2 separate regions of the Homo sapiens genome follow, and region 2 is linked to region 1. A link means that fine-mapping ties the variant in region 1 to the expression of a gene that starts in the linked region. Tissue or cell type: breast. Region 1 holds a variant in brackets; the other region holds the start of a gene. All regions are shown on one strand. Distances are from middle to middle.

Region 1 (7,791 bases):
ACTACTACCAACCTTACAGATACAGAAAGAATTATAGAACACTATGAAAAATTGTATGACAACAAACTAGATAACCTAGATTAAATGAACAAATGCCTAGAAACCAAAACTTCCTCAAGAAGAAACAGAAAACTTGAATAGACCTCAAACACAAGATTGAATCAGTAATCAAAAAACTTCCAATAGAGAAACGATTAGGAGCAAATAAAGAATAAATGCCAATCCACAAACTGTTCCAAAAAATAGAGAAGAATATACTTCATAACCCATTCTCTTGTGCCAGTATTATCCTAAAACTAAAGCCAGACAATATCTCACAAGGAAAGAAATATAAAGACCAGGCTGGGCGTGGTGGCTCACGCCTGTAATCCCAGCAATTTGGGAGGCTGAGGCAGGTGTATCACGAGGTCAGGAGATCGAGACCATCCTGGCTAATGTGGTGAAACCCCATCTCTACTAAAAATACAAAAAATTAGCCAGGTGTGGTGGCAGGCACCTGTAGTCCCAGCTACTCGGGAAGCTGAGGCAGGAGAATGGCGTGAACCCAGGAGGCGGAGCTTGCAGTGAGCCCAGATCGCACCACTGCACTCCAGCCTGGGCAGCAGAGCAAGACTCTGTCTCAAAAAAAAGAAGGAATATACGGACCAATATCCCTTATGAATATAGATGCAAATATCCTCAACCAAATACTAGCAAATCCAATCCAGCAACATGTTAAAAAGATTATACATCGTGTCCATGTGGGATTTATCATGGGAATGCAAGCAAGGTAGTTGAACATATGAAAATCAGTGTAAAGGCCAGGCATGGTGGCTCATGCCTATAATCTTAGCACGTTGTGAGGCCTAGGCGGGCAGATCACTTGAGGTCAGAAATTTGAGACCAGCCTGGCCAGCATGGTGAAACCCCACCTCTACTAAAAATACAAAAATTAGCCAGACATGGTGGCGTGCTCCTGTAATCCCAACTACTTGGGAGGCTGAGGCAGGAGAATCGCTTGAAACCAGAAGATGGAGGTTGCAGTGAGCCATGATCGCACCACTGCACTCCAGCCTAGGCAACAAGAGCAAAACTCCGTCTCAAAACAAACAAACAAGATGTGCTTTGTTAAACAGATGCTTGAAGGCAGCATGATCGTTAAGAGTCATCACCACTCCCTAATCTCAAGTAATCAGGGACACAAACACTGTGGAAGGCCGCAGGGTCCTCTGCCTAGGAAAACCAGAGACCTTTGTTCACTTGTTTATCTGCTGACCTTCCCTCCACTATTGTCCCATGACCCTGCCAAATCCCCCTCTGTGAGAAACACCCAAGAATTATCAATAAAAAAATAAATTAAAAAACAAACAAACAAACAAACAAAAAACACCTGAGCTCAAACAATTCTCCCTCCTTGGTCTCCCCAAATGCTGGGATGACATGCATGAACCACTGCACCTGGCAAATTATGACATGATCTTATATGTAGTAAACCCTAAAGAATCCACACAAAAACTATTACAGCTAGTAAATAAATTCAGCAAAGTTACAGGATACAAGATTAATATACAAAAATCAGCTGTATTTCCATACATTAGCAATAAACAATCTGAAAATAAAATTAAGAAAATAATGCCATTTACAAAATGGAACTTTATTCTTATTAAAAAGAATAAGAGACTTCGGAATATTTTTAACCAAGAAGATGCAAGACTTGTACACTGAAAACCCTACGACAGTGGTGAATGAAACTAAAGAATACCTAAATAAATGAAAAGACATCCTATGTTCATGGATTGGAAGACTTGATGTTGTAAAGATGACTAAGTGATCTACAGACTCAGTGTAATCCCCATCAAAATTCCAACTGCGTTTTTTGCAGAAATGGGCAAGGCGATCCTAAAATTCACATGGAATTGCAATGGACCCCAAATAGCTAAAACCATCTTGAAAAAGAACAAAGTTGGAGAACTTACACTCCTGGTTTCGAAATTTCTACGTAGCTACATAATTAAAACAATGAAATATTGAAGTGACATATAGCTCAATAGAATTGATAGTCCAGAAATAAACCCATATATGTATTATCAATTGATTTTCAACATGTATGCCAAGACAAGTCAATAGGAAAGAATATGCTTTTCAACAAATATACATGGACACCTGGATAGCTACATGCAAAAGAAGAAAGTTGGACCTTTACCTCAAATGATACATAAAAATTAACTCAAAATAGGTCAAATTCCTAAATGTAAGAACTAAAGCGATAGAAGTTTTAGAAGAAAACGTACGGGTAAATCTTCATGACCTTGGATTTGACAGTGTCAAAATTTATCTAAATTAAAATTTTAATGTTTAAAATTCAAAATGAATTAAAAACTTTCATGCATCAAGGAACCTCCTCAAGAAAGTAAAAAAGATGATCTACAGAATGGGAGAAAATATTTGTAAATCACGTGCTTGATAATGGTCTAGTATCCAGAATATATAAATAATTCTAACAACAACAAGAAGGCAAACAATCCAACTGAAAAAATGGGCAAAAGACTTGGATAGACATTTCTCCAATGAGGATAAACAAACAGCCAATAAGCACATGAGAAGATACTTAACATCGTTTGCCATCTGGGAAATGAGAATCAAAACCACAATGAGATACTACTGCACACCTACTAGGATGGCTTTAGCATCAGTAAATATGTAAACACTACATACATAAGTGGAAAAGGTGAATTTTACAGGACACGGATTGCCCCTCAATATTAAAATTATAAAAAAAAGACTGGAAGGAAATACATCAAAATGATAACCTTGTTTGGGAGTTTGTTTTGTTTTGTTTTAAACTGCTCTGTAGTTTCCTAATTGTTTATAACAAGCATTTAGTCCTTTTGAATTGTAAGCAATAGTCTTAAATCTCTCTTATAGTTGTATAAAGCAGGCATACATGAATCTTCCTCCCCTCCCCTCCCTTCCTCCCTCCTTCAAAATAAATTAAAAACTTTTGTGCATCAAGGAACCTCCTCAACAAAGTAAAAAAGACGACCTACAGAATGGAGTCCTCCCTACCTCCTTCCCTTCCTTCCCTTCCTTCCTTTCCTTCCCTTCCTTCCCTCCTTCCTTCCTTCCTTCCTTCCTTCCTTCCTTCCTTCCTTCCTTCCTTCCCTCCTTTGTTGAGACAGGGTCTTGCTCTGTCACCTAGTCTGGACTGCAGTTCTGAGCTGGTGTGATCATAGCTCACTGCAGCCTCAAACTCCTGGGCTCAAGCAATCATCCGACCTCAGCCTCCCAAAATGTAGGGATTGTATGTGTGAGCCACTGCACCAGGGCAGATTCTGCATTGGTAACAAGCTTCCAAATGATGTAACTGGGCCCCAGACCTCAGTTTGAGAAGCCAGGTTCTAGAAGTCAGCAGCAGGAAGGAATGGACCAATTAAGCAAATCAGCAAAGCAGAGGGACCACAGAAAAAAGGACGATGCTCCCGGGCCCCTCCCCCGGGACATATTTACACTAAAAATTATTCACTTTTCTATCTGAAGTTCTTATTTGCCTGACTGTCCTGTAGTTGTTTTGCCAGGATGTCATCTAATGTTTGTTTTTGTTTTGGACACGGAGTTTC[G/A]CTCTTGTCAACCAGGCTGGAGTACAATGGTGCAATCTTGGCTCACTGCAACCTCTGTCTCCCGGGTTCAAGTGATTCTCCTGCCTCAGCCTCCCCGAGTAGCTGGGATTACAGGCATGCGCCACCATGCCTGGCTACTTATCTTTGTATTTTTAGTAGAGACGGGATTTTGCCATGTTGGCCAGGCTGGTCTTGAATTCCTGACCTCCCGTGATTCACCCGCCTCAGCCTCCCAAAGTGCTGGGATTACAGGTAGGAGCCACCACACCTGGCCTGGCCTGTAGTTTTATTGGCTAAGTCTGGTAGCCCTAGCATGGGTGGAGAAGGCTGTAGCTGTGGAAGCCCAGCCAGTCTGCATCTGAGGCAGGGAAAGGCAGCTAAGGCAGCCTGCCGTCAGCCCATTGACCTGACAGATAGGGGCCAATGTGGCTTACTCCTCATCTAGCCTACCCTTGTGCCGTCCTCTCCAACATCCATCCACCTGACAGATGGATGACCCTTCCTCTTCCCCAGGGGTTGTTTTGATGAGTAGATGACATTTCTAAAGAGCGCTTAGTGCACTGCCTGACACCTGGTAAGTGGTCAAGATGGGGAGAACTGATTGTTTCTACTATTCTTTCCCTCTCACAGTGGCCACCGCAGCGCTAAACACGGTCGGTCGGCATTCAGTGCTCGCCGTGGAAGCGAACCGCAGGAGCATCCTGGGGCAGCGGGGAGTTGCTGCACTCACCTAGACAGGCGGCCTACTGTGACTTCAGGCAAGTCATTTTCCTTCTCTGTGCCTCAGTTTCTTTGTCTGCAAAATGAGCAGCTGGACTAGAAACTTACCATTCTTTCACAGCACGTCAAACTCAACATGCCCATTTGAGCTGAAGACACTGAGGCTACTCACTGGGTGTGAACCTTTGACAGCATCCAGGCCCTGCACAGTTGTCTAGGAGAAGCCTGACCCATGATGTCCTTTCCGCTACCCACCTGCCACGAGCCCCAGTTCTGAGCTGGAGGGGTGGGGGTGGGTGGAAGGTGGATAGTGGTCAGTGCCTCACCTGGCCGACTGCAGCCTGGCAGAGTCCATGGGGGACCTCGCAGCACAGTGGATCCTCTTGCCTTGTGTCTCTAGTTGGTCCAGCTCTGGTCTATTCCATGCTATTCCGTTGTCATGGGCAGGACTGGGTTTGATGAAGTTGGACCTAGGTGTATCCCAGCCTCTCCTGGTTTCTGTCGTCTTTCTGTGGTGCCCAGGGCTTATGTTTCTATCTCTTTGAATGTTGAGTTTACTCCGTCCTTCAGGGATCAGGGCTGCCTGAGCTCAGGGTGGAGGTGCTGTTGTCTGTCTGGCTTCCGGGCCCTGGACTGGCAGTGTCCCCCAGCACCCCTGTCCAGCTATGCCAAGCCCCCTCCTTTTCTTTCTTGGCCTCTGCCCTATTTGTTCTGTGACTGGCCCAAGAGAGGGGTGTGGGCTGGCAGGTGTCCCACATAAAGCCTGGAGGCAGCATCCAGGCCTGGCTGACTTACCCCGGGGCCCCCTGCCTACTGCCCCCAGCCAAGCTGGGTCTCCTTCTTCCTGCCCAGCTGAGGCAGGGCCTAGAAGGGCACCGAGGCAGGCCCTCTGTGATGCTCCTGTTGCTATGGTAATTCTAGATGAGAAGGCCATAGCATTCTGTGTCTGGCACCCCCGCGCATCTCCCCAGCTCTGCCCTGCTGCCCCAAGAGATGGCTCTCTGCTGGGGAGCTCGAGAGCTTGGAATCTGCTGCAGTCAAAGTTTCTTCCATGCGGCCAGGCACAGTGGCTCATGCCTGCAATCCTAGCACTTTGGGAGGCCGAGGCGGGTGAATTACTTGAGGTCAGGAGTTCAAGACCAACCTGGCCAACATGGTGAAACCCCATCTCTACTAAAAATACAATACTTAGCCGGAAATCACTTGAACCCAGGAGGCAGATGTTGCAGTGAGCCAAGATCATGCCACTGCACTCCAGCCTGGGTAACAAAGCGAGACTCCGTCTCAAAAAAAAAAAAAAAGTATCTTTCATGCAGGCCCCATCCTTTGGACCTCCCTTCAACCCCAAGAGAGACCACTACCCTAGCAGGTAAGACTCTACCTCTCAGAAACTGACCTTTACTGTAGAGCTGATAGTGGGAAAGGGCTCAGGATCCAAAATCAAAAGACCTAGATCCTAGTCTCAAGCCATTTATAGCTGTGTGACCTTGGACAAGGCAGGCCTTGAGCTTCAGTGTCCTCCTTTGTAAAATGTGGATAAACATGCGATACTGAATCATCCTTCAGGAATAGCTCTATGACTTTCCGTAGGTTGTTCCCCTGATGTGTAATGCTCTTCCATTCTTCTCAGCTCCATGAACTCCTACTCATGCTTCAAGACCCAACCGAAATGCCCCATTGTCTGTAAAAATTTCCCTGACCTCTGTGCACTTGGCACAGATCTTAGGCCTTGCCATTCTGTGTTAGAGTTGTTATTTAAGTGTTTCCAAATTTTTTGACTATGAATACGTACAGGCAGGAATCAGATTAGGCTCAGTTCTGGAAGGAGAAATGGTTTGGCGAATATTTTCTTTGCGGAACGGAAAGCAGAAGAGGGCGACCTTGACTGGGTTGGGTGCCATCTCTGCAGGGGTCAATCCTGGGACTCTTGTTCCAGGCATGGCTTGGGTCAATCAGCACTCATGACTTTGCTGTGTGCCTGAGCCGTGCCTGGCTAACTGGGGACATTTTCATAGCTGAGACCCAGTAGGAGAGACCATGACTTGTGCCAGGGTGTGCCTGTCTCAGCTCTGGGGCAGGGCCAGGAGCAGCTGCTCATGGGATGTCTCTGGGGACATGCTGGGGCCTCTGGGAGGGGAAGGGAGACTGGCCATGCACTGTCTATGGTCCTGGTGGTACTCCTGGGATATTGCCAAGGAGCCTGCGGTTCAGGGAACAGGGAGGAGGGACTCTAGTGTCTCCAACTCCCTCTCATGGCTCTATGGCTGCTGGTCGGGGTCAGGGAGATGAAGCAGTGCCAGCTCCGTGGTCTGCACTGATCCTGACCAGTGAACCAGGCTTCCCCAGCCAGAGCCAGCTAGTCAAGCACGCTCTCTAGTGGCCACCACAGGGAAGGCAAGAACTTGTCTCCACAAAGGCAGGATTTTCATTTATTCCTTCAGAGAGTACAGAATGAGCATCAATGTTCCAGGCATGGTGCCAGGCATGTGTGTTAACTTTAGTTAAAACATACTTATTGGCCGAGTGTGGCGGCTCACTCCTGTAATCCCACCACTTTGGGAGGCCTAGGTGGGAGGACTGCTTGAACTTAGAGCTCAATACCAGCCTGGGTAATGTAGTGAGACCCTATCTCTATAAAAAAAAAAAAAATAGCTGGGTGTGGTGGTGTGCGTCTGTAGTCCCAGCGACTTGGGAGGCTGAGATGGGAGGATTGCTTGAGCCTGGGAAGTGGAGGTTGCAATGAGCCAAAATCACACCCATTGCACTCCAGCCTGGGTGACCTTGTCTCAAAAATATAGTTATATATTTACTTATATATTTATATGTATAAATATATGTGTACATACAAATATATTTGTAATATTATAGACATATTAATACATATTTACATATGTTAATATATAAATATATATAATATATATTTATCATCTTCTAAATGGAAAGCTCTTGAGTTTCAGGATGTGTTGGTTGGGAAGGGAATACAGGATAGGGAAATAATCCATTAAGCAATGACTCAGCACAGGCCATAAAATCAGAATCACCTGGAGAACTTGAACAATCCCAACACCTGGGGTCCATCCAGACCAATCAAATCAGAATTCGTAGGGGTCAGGCACAGGCACCAGTGGTTTGGAGAGTTGACGGACACATGTCCCATCCATCATTCTCATTCGGCTGCCAAGGTAGGCATCGTTGTCCCATTTTGCATATGAGGAGACTGAGGCTGAAGTGAACCTGCTTCTTTCCCCATATCAGTTGAGGACAGCGATGGGGCAGCGGGGAGGCAGTAAATACTCCTACAAGGCTGCCTCTAAAGAGAGTCTTATAATAACAACAGCTTTATTGTTTGCCATGATTAGAAAAGTATTCAAGGTCATTGCGAAATAGTGTTTTTTTTTCTAGGCAGATAATTATATAAAGGCAAAAATGGTGTGTGGGGGTGGGGGACAAGGGGAGGGAGAGCATTAGGACAAAT
Region 2 (6,401 bases), 260 kb before region 1:
GGTCGATGTTGCTGGAAGCCTGCTGAGATGCCTTACAGCCATGGCTCAGCCCTCAAGAAGAAGGCTTAGGTCAGTCTGTCAGGCAAAGAATCCTGACTGAATAAGAATCGGGCAGGAGACCTGCAGAACACAGAAATAAGGCGTTAGAGGATGGAATTCGCTAGTACCTTCTAGGAGTTTGTGACCAATTGCAAAAATAAAGACTGCAGTCCCTCCCTGTCTTTCCTTGCTTGTTACTAGAGTTGTTGAAGATTAAATAGTTGACCATTTCCCCCTTTAAGAAAATATGAATCACAATTTGAAAATGTTTTTGTTATCTTTCCTTTTCCTTTCACCTAACATTTATGTGTGTATGTATTTTTTTGAGAGGGAGTCTTGCTCTGTCGCTGGAGTGTAGTGGCGTGATCTCGGCTCACTGCAACCTCCGCATTCCAGGTTCAAGCGCTTCTCCTGCCTCAGCCTCCTGAGTAGCTTGGATTATAGGCGCGCGCCACCATACCCAGCTAATTTTTATATTTTTAGTAGAGACGGGGTTTCACCATGTTGGTCAGGCTGGCCTTGAACTCCTGACCTTGTGATCTGCTTGCCTCGGCCTCCCAAAGTGCTGGGATTACAGGCGTGAGCCACCACGCTGGGCCTATTTTTTTTTTTTTTTTTTTGAGACGGAGTCTCACTCTGTTGCCCAGGCTGGAGTGCAGTAGCGGGATCTCGGCTCACTGCAACCTCCACCTCCCGGGTTCAAGCAACTCTCCTGCCTCAGCCTCCCGAATAGCTGGGATTACAGGTGCCCATCACCATGCCCAGCTGATTTTTGTATTTTTAGTAGAGATGGGGTTTCACCATGTTGGTCAGGCTGGTCTTGAACTCCTGACCTCAGGTGATCCACCCGCCTCAGCCTCCCAAAGTGCTGGGATTACAGGTGTGAGCCACCGCACCCGGTCACCTAACATTTATAATAGTGGTGTTTCTCAGCCTTTCATGTGCATTCAAATCACCTGGGAATCTTGTTGCCAACCTGAGATTCTTGGGCCTGAGATTATGCATTCCCGTTAAGCTTCTGGGTGGTGCCAATGTCTCACTCTGAGTAGCAAGAGTTCAAAGGATTTGGTGATGGTAAAAGTAACCCTTTAATTCAGTTAAATGACCAGATGGGATCAATCACCTTGAAGATCTTGAAATAATAGTAGCCTCATGACATCAAGTGTGAAGGTGACTGTTGGTACTTGTCTGGTGAAGACAACTTTGGAGGAATGGGAAGAAGGACTGGCGTGTGTCGGGACACATGTGTGCACATGGACACATGTGAGTTTGTGTACATGGGACAGCTAAGGGATGGATCCGTAGTAGACAGCCTTTTTTTTTTTTTTTTTTTGAGATGGAGTCTGGCTCTCTTGCCCAGGCTAGAGTGCAATGGCACGATCTCGGCTCACTGCAACCTCTGCCTCCCACGTTCAAGTGATTCTTCCGCCTCAGCCTCCCGAGTAGCTGGGATTACAGGCACCTGCCATCATGCCAGGCTAATTTTTGTACTTTGGTAGAGATAGGGTTTCACCATGTTGGCCAGACTGGTCTCGAACTCCTGACCTCAGGTGATCCACCTGCCTCTGCCTCCCAAAGTGCTGGGATTACAGGCATGAGCCACCGCCCCTGGCCGACAGTCTTTGGACTGGCTGTTCAGGTCATGATTCTCCTCCTCTGGGAGTGTCTCTCAACGGGGAAAAGTGGACTGACATGTTTGTATCACAAAGCACTTTCTGCCCTGGCCATAGCTGATTGACCGTGGCCTGATCTGGACTAATAAGATTCTTTTTTTCTGGGAATCGGGAACTTTGAACCAAGAGACATCCAATCTGGCAGTTTTGATTCTGATTAATGGCAATGATCTAGAAAGAAGATCCCTAAACTGATACTGCTACAGTTGTCCCTTAAAGCCTCCCCTGATCTCTGCCCTTCCTGAGCCTTGAGGAATTCAACTCCTCCTTGAATCCCCTGAGGTGCCCCACTGGGTATATGCGCCCACTCCTCATTTTCCTTGTTACCTACGTGAGTTTGCTTTCTAAATAATCACAGGTAACACAGAACTCCTTCCAGAAGTGGCTCCATCTGCTTCAATAAAAGGCAGTCCTGGCCTCACAGTCTCATTTCCAACCCAAATGTCCACGTAATTTTCAGACCGAGGCTTCTGCTCAAGCCGGGCACCCCACTACCCACACCTCCTTGTTCACCTATGGCTCCCACTTCTACTGAACTGCGCGATCACTGTGATTTTGGGGGTGGCAACAGGGCCTAGGAAACATTTTAGAGGCACTTCTCTTGCCTGAAAGAAAACGTTCTTCCCCTTTTTGTCTCTGATGAATCTTTACTGGATCTTTGGGACCCAGCTGAGTCATCCCGACCTGCAGACTGGACTCCCATCCCCAGGCTTAAATTCCTTTCCAAGGGCTCTGTCTGTCCTCTCGGCTTAGCTTCTGTGTTAAAACCCCCTCCATCTGCGTCTCCTCCCCAGCAGAATGAGCTCCTTGAAGTCAGGGCCCGCCTTCTGCTCCTCTCTGTGCTCCACTCCCCCAGTTCAGCACAGTGCTCCCAGGGAGGTGTAAGCGACTTACGGTGAATGAAAGGGCGTGAAGGGGAACAGGAGGGGCGGTTTTCTTCATTTACCAGAAATTCAAAATTGACCAAGTAAACCCCTTTGGAGACCAGGCACGATGCTGGGCACTGGGAACGGGGGTAGGGGTGGGGGGTGGGGGGGTGGTAGGGAGGAGGGGGTACCCAGGGTACCCACGGGCTCTGTCGCCCGTGGGGAAGGATGGGCATTTACCCTTCCCATTCATCAGGATGGGAGGGCCACGGACTCCCCCCACGGCAGTGCCGGGTAGACCCCTGCACCACACCGTGCCAAGGCCCTTTCTCACAGTCACGCCAGGAACTCTAGCCATGCTCTGACTTCTCAAGCAGAGTTCAGTCACCCCGAGGAGGTGGGACCCGTCTCTCTCCTCCCCACAAATGAACCAGTTCTCCAGTGATCCTACTTCCTTTTTTCCCTCTCCCACGCTAAAACTGGTCACGAGGGACCTAAAGGAGGGGCAGGCACCCAGGCGGCTCCCTTCCCCGCACGCATCGCGGCCAGTCCAGCCCCTCCCGGCCGCCCACGGGACCCCAGCCGAGCCTGAGCCAGGCGCCCACCGCCCCCACGCGCAGGGCCGGCGCCCGCGGAAGACTCGGCTCTCCCTGGCCTCGACGCCGCTCCCCTCCCTGGCGCCAGGGGGCGCTGCCTCCCCACGACCGTCGCCATGGTCACCGCTGGCGGCGGAGAGGGGTTTACGTAAAGGACGCAGCGTCCCCCGGGGGGCGGAGGCGGCCTTCGCGCCGGCGCCGGCGCCCTGCGGAAGCGGCGTTAGTGAATCGGGGCCTTGGGGAGCCCAGGATGGAGGTGGCGGTCGCGGCGGCGGGCCGAGCCCTGCGGCGGGCGGGAGGTAAGGGGGGCCTCCGGCGCGGCGGGCCGGTCCTGGGCGCGGGCGCGGTGCGAGCGGCGCGGCGGGCTGGGCAGTGTCCAGGGCGCGCGGTGGCCGGCCCGACGGGTCGGCGGGCGGAGTTGCAGCTGCCACGCGCGCCCGTGGCAGGTGTGAGGTCTGTGGAGCCCCTGGCACCAGCGTGGGGATGGTGACACGCGTGGCACGGGCGTGGGCAACGTGGGTCCGGCACAGGCGGCGTGGTTTTCCTGGAACGGGTCTCAGAAGACTCGCCTCCACCTTGGTGCGGTGGTGGCCACGCAGGTGTGAGGTGGTGCAGCTGTCTGCACAGGTAGGTGATGGGCACGGCCTTCGGACTGGTTATGGGATAGGTGGCCAGCTCGTGCCGGCATGGTGGTGCCGCTAGCATGGGTGTGAGGAAGTGCTGCCATTGCTTGGGTGTTGGGATGGTTCTGGCCTTGGGCTTGACATGATCTGGGGTGATAGCACTGGGGGCTTGAAGAATTGGTGTTCTCAGCATGGCTAGAGTTCCTGGCATGACTGTGAGAAAGGGCCTTGGCACGGTGTGGTGCGGGGGGCTACCCGGCACTGCCGCGGGGGGAGTCCGTGGCCCTCCCATCCTGATGAATGGGAAGGGTAAATGCCCATCCTTCCTCACGGGCGATGAAGGGGACACTGCCTCTGTCATGGGGGTCCAGTTTTAATGCCTGTTGGGTACACTGGACTGAGGAGGGCAGAAGGCTGGGAGAAGGTTGGTGTCCTTTATAATGGGCATAAACAAGAGATGCCAGGAGAAGCTTCTACCACAAGGGCCCTGATGGTAACCCAGATAGAGACCTTCCAGGCACTACCGTTGTCCTGGGCTAAGGTAGAGAGAACCATTCATCTAGCTTTTCATCTAGCTTTGGGAATGAAGGGAGGGGTGGATGATTTTCAGTGGTGATCGGTGTCCCAGAATATGTCCTGAGAAGCAAGCAGGACCAAGAGGTAACCCGGGTCAGCGAGTGAGGGAGTGGTATGGCGCACCATCTATCTGTAGTCACGGGGTCCTGCCTTCTCCCTGGGTTGATGGGTTCACTCCAGGGTATCTGGGAGTTGCCTCTCTTCTTTGATGCTGGGGAGCCTTTGGGTCCAGAGGATTGGATCGATTGGGGTATGCTTGAAAGATGATTCTGCAGCCACTGGGAATCTGCTGGGGCCACCGGGACTCCCACCCCCAGGCTTAAATTCCTTTCCAAGGGCTCTGTCTGTCCTCTCTGCTTAGCTCCTATGTTAAAACCCCTCCATCTGCGCTGAGATTGTGTTTGCTCTCACCAGTCCTTTGGGAAGCTTTGGGTGAAGGTCTCACTCAGCATCACCTAGTGCCTTACTTTACAGAGAAGCAATTTGCAGCTCCTCCTAGAGAAGTCTTACAGTGTAGGGGAAATCTTCAGTTCTTTGTGGATCTCTTGGGGGAGTGGGATCAGTGGTAGAAGAATCACAGGGTTGAGCTTGTGCTGGGGAAGGCACTTATGAGTCCAAAAAGATGATGTTGAGGGTAGGGTGGCAGGTGGTCGCCAAATTGCCAAGGTGGGTGCTTGGAGATGCTGATGAGTTCCCTATAACCGGAGCACTGTCCGATGCCTTTGGAGCCATATCACTTTAATTCCAGTGTTGGCTGTGTGACCTTCAGCAGGTGACTTCACCAATCAAGGCATGTCACATGGTGGTCTGGTAGTAAAGAATGAAAGGAAATGGTGCACGTGGAAACACTTTGCAAACAGCGAAAGACTGTACAAAGGTCAGAGAGTCTCATCAAGTAAAGAGACCAGGGCTGGAGGCAGGAGCCATAGGAAATGGTGGCACGGGATGTGATTGGGAGGAAGGGAGCCGGAAGGTTGAGGGCCTGTCATAGGGAATTAGAGGCCCTGAGCGCACATGCTCCCGGTGGGGGCAAGTGGGATCTGTTGACACTGTGAGTCAGCTGCTGAGCTGGAACCAGGCCCCCGGTCTCCAGAGGACAGTCCTGAGCATGGCCCCGGCAGCTGTGAAGTCCTGCAGGAGTGGCCCAAGCAGGAGGAAGCACTTTGCTTGGGCAGCAGACGTGCCTCATTGCCAGGGTAGGTCTGGGAGGTGTCTGTGGCTGACAGATCTAGGGTACCTGTGTGGGAGGAAGACTTGGGAAGTGTGTGTGTTTTCTCTGGAGAATTTCCTTTGGCTCTGGGTTCTGAGAACGGGGGTGGGGAGCAGTCACATCAGCGTCTTTTGGGCTGTGGCCTGAAGGAAATGAAGTGGGTCAGAGCATCCACAGATCGATGTGGCTCAGGTCTGGATGGTTCTGCGGGAGGTTGAGGCTGGATGGCAGGGGGACGGGGGGGGGAGGTGTGGAGGATGCCCTCAGACACATAGGGGAAAGGAAAGGGGGCTACAGGCACCTCTGAGGGCAGACAGGTGTGGCACCTCTCCCAATGTGGCCCCACTTCTGGCTGAAGTGCCTTCCCAGGTGGGGAGGATGAGGGTGGCTGCACAGTGCTTTGCTCTCTGCCACCAGGAGCCTAATTCCCGACAACAAGCTGCAGAGCCTGAGTTGCAGACCCTGCCCCATGGCGCTGGAAGTCCTGTTTTTCTCTCACCCAGGCCGTTTCTTCAGCATTCCATGCGGGTGTCTGCCTTAGCCAGCAACCTGTTTCACATCCTTGCTCCCCGAGGAAAGTTTTTGCCCTGTGCCCAGGCTGCAGTGTCAAGCCATGTGGGTGGAAGGAGGACACGGCCCTCCCAGACCCAGGGTTGTGAGCTGACTTTTCCATGCTATGGACTCGCCCTGTCCCCGTAGCTGCCACGCAGACACTGTCCAGCATTGCAGGTGCTTCCCTGGTCATTCCCATGTTGGTCTGAGGGGTATCCATGGCCTGTCTCACCCGCTCCCTGCAGTGCTTCATACCTCCCCCGAGG

Alleles and levels. Alleles are on the strand shown, and positions count from the first base shown. SD is a standard deviation of normalised expression in the study named.
For the expression in breast of the gene that starts at base 3,360 in region 2, G is the high allele of the variant in region 1 and A is the other (small effect, 0.34 SD a copy in GTEx).

What was found. PIP is the estimated chance that this variant, and not a neighbour inherited with it, causes the effect.
Region 2: DAGLA starts here. The variant in region 1 is fine-mapped to the expression of DAGLA in breast (GTEx, PIP above 0.99).

What each region holds. Positions count from the first base shown.
Region 1 is chr11:61,941,131-61,948,921 of GRCh38, forward strand. It overlaps a transcript of RAB3IL1 not described here. Among named protein-coding and RNA genes, the nearest start is that of BEST1, 5.3 kb to the right of the region's middle. RefSeq lists enhancers at 723-1,377, 2,547-3,048 and a silencer at 4,919-5,082. The variant G/A (reference allele first, on the strand shown) is at 3,597.
Region 2 is chr11:61,677,032-61,683,432 of GRCh38, forward strand. DAGLA (diacylglycerol lipase alpha) reads left to right here and starts at 3,360. Exons shown (of 20, transcript NM_006133.3): 1 at 3,360-3,473. RefSeq lists enhancers at 5,557-6,231, 6,232-6,401.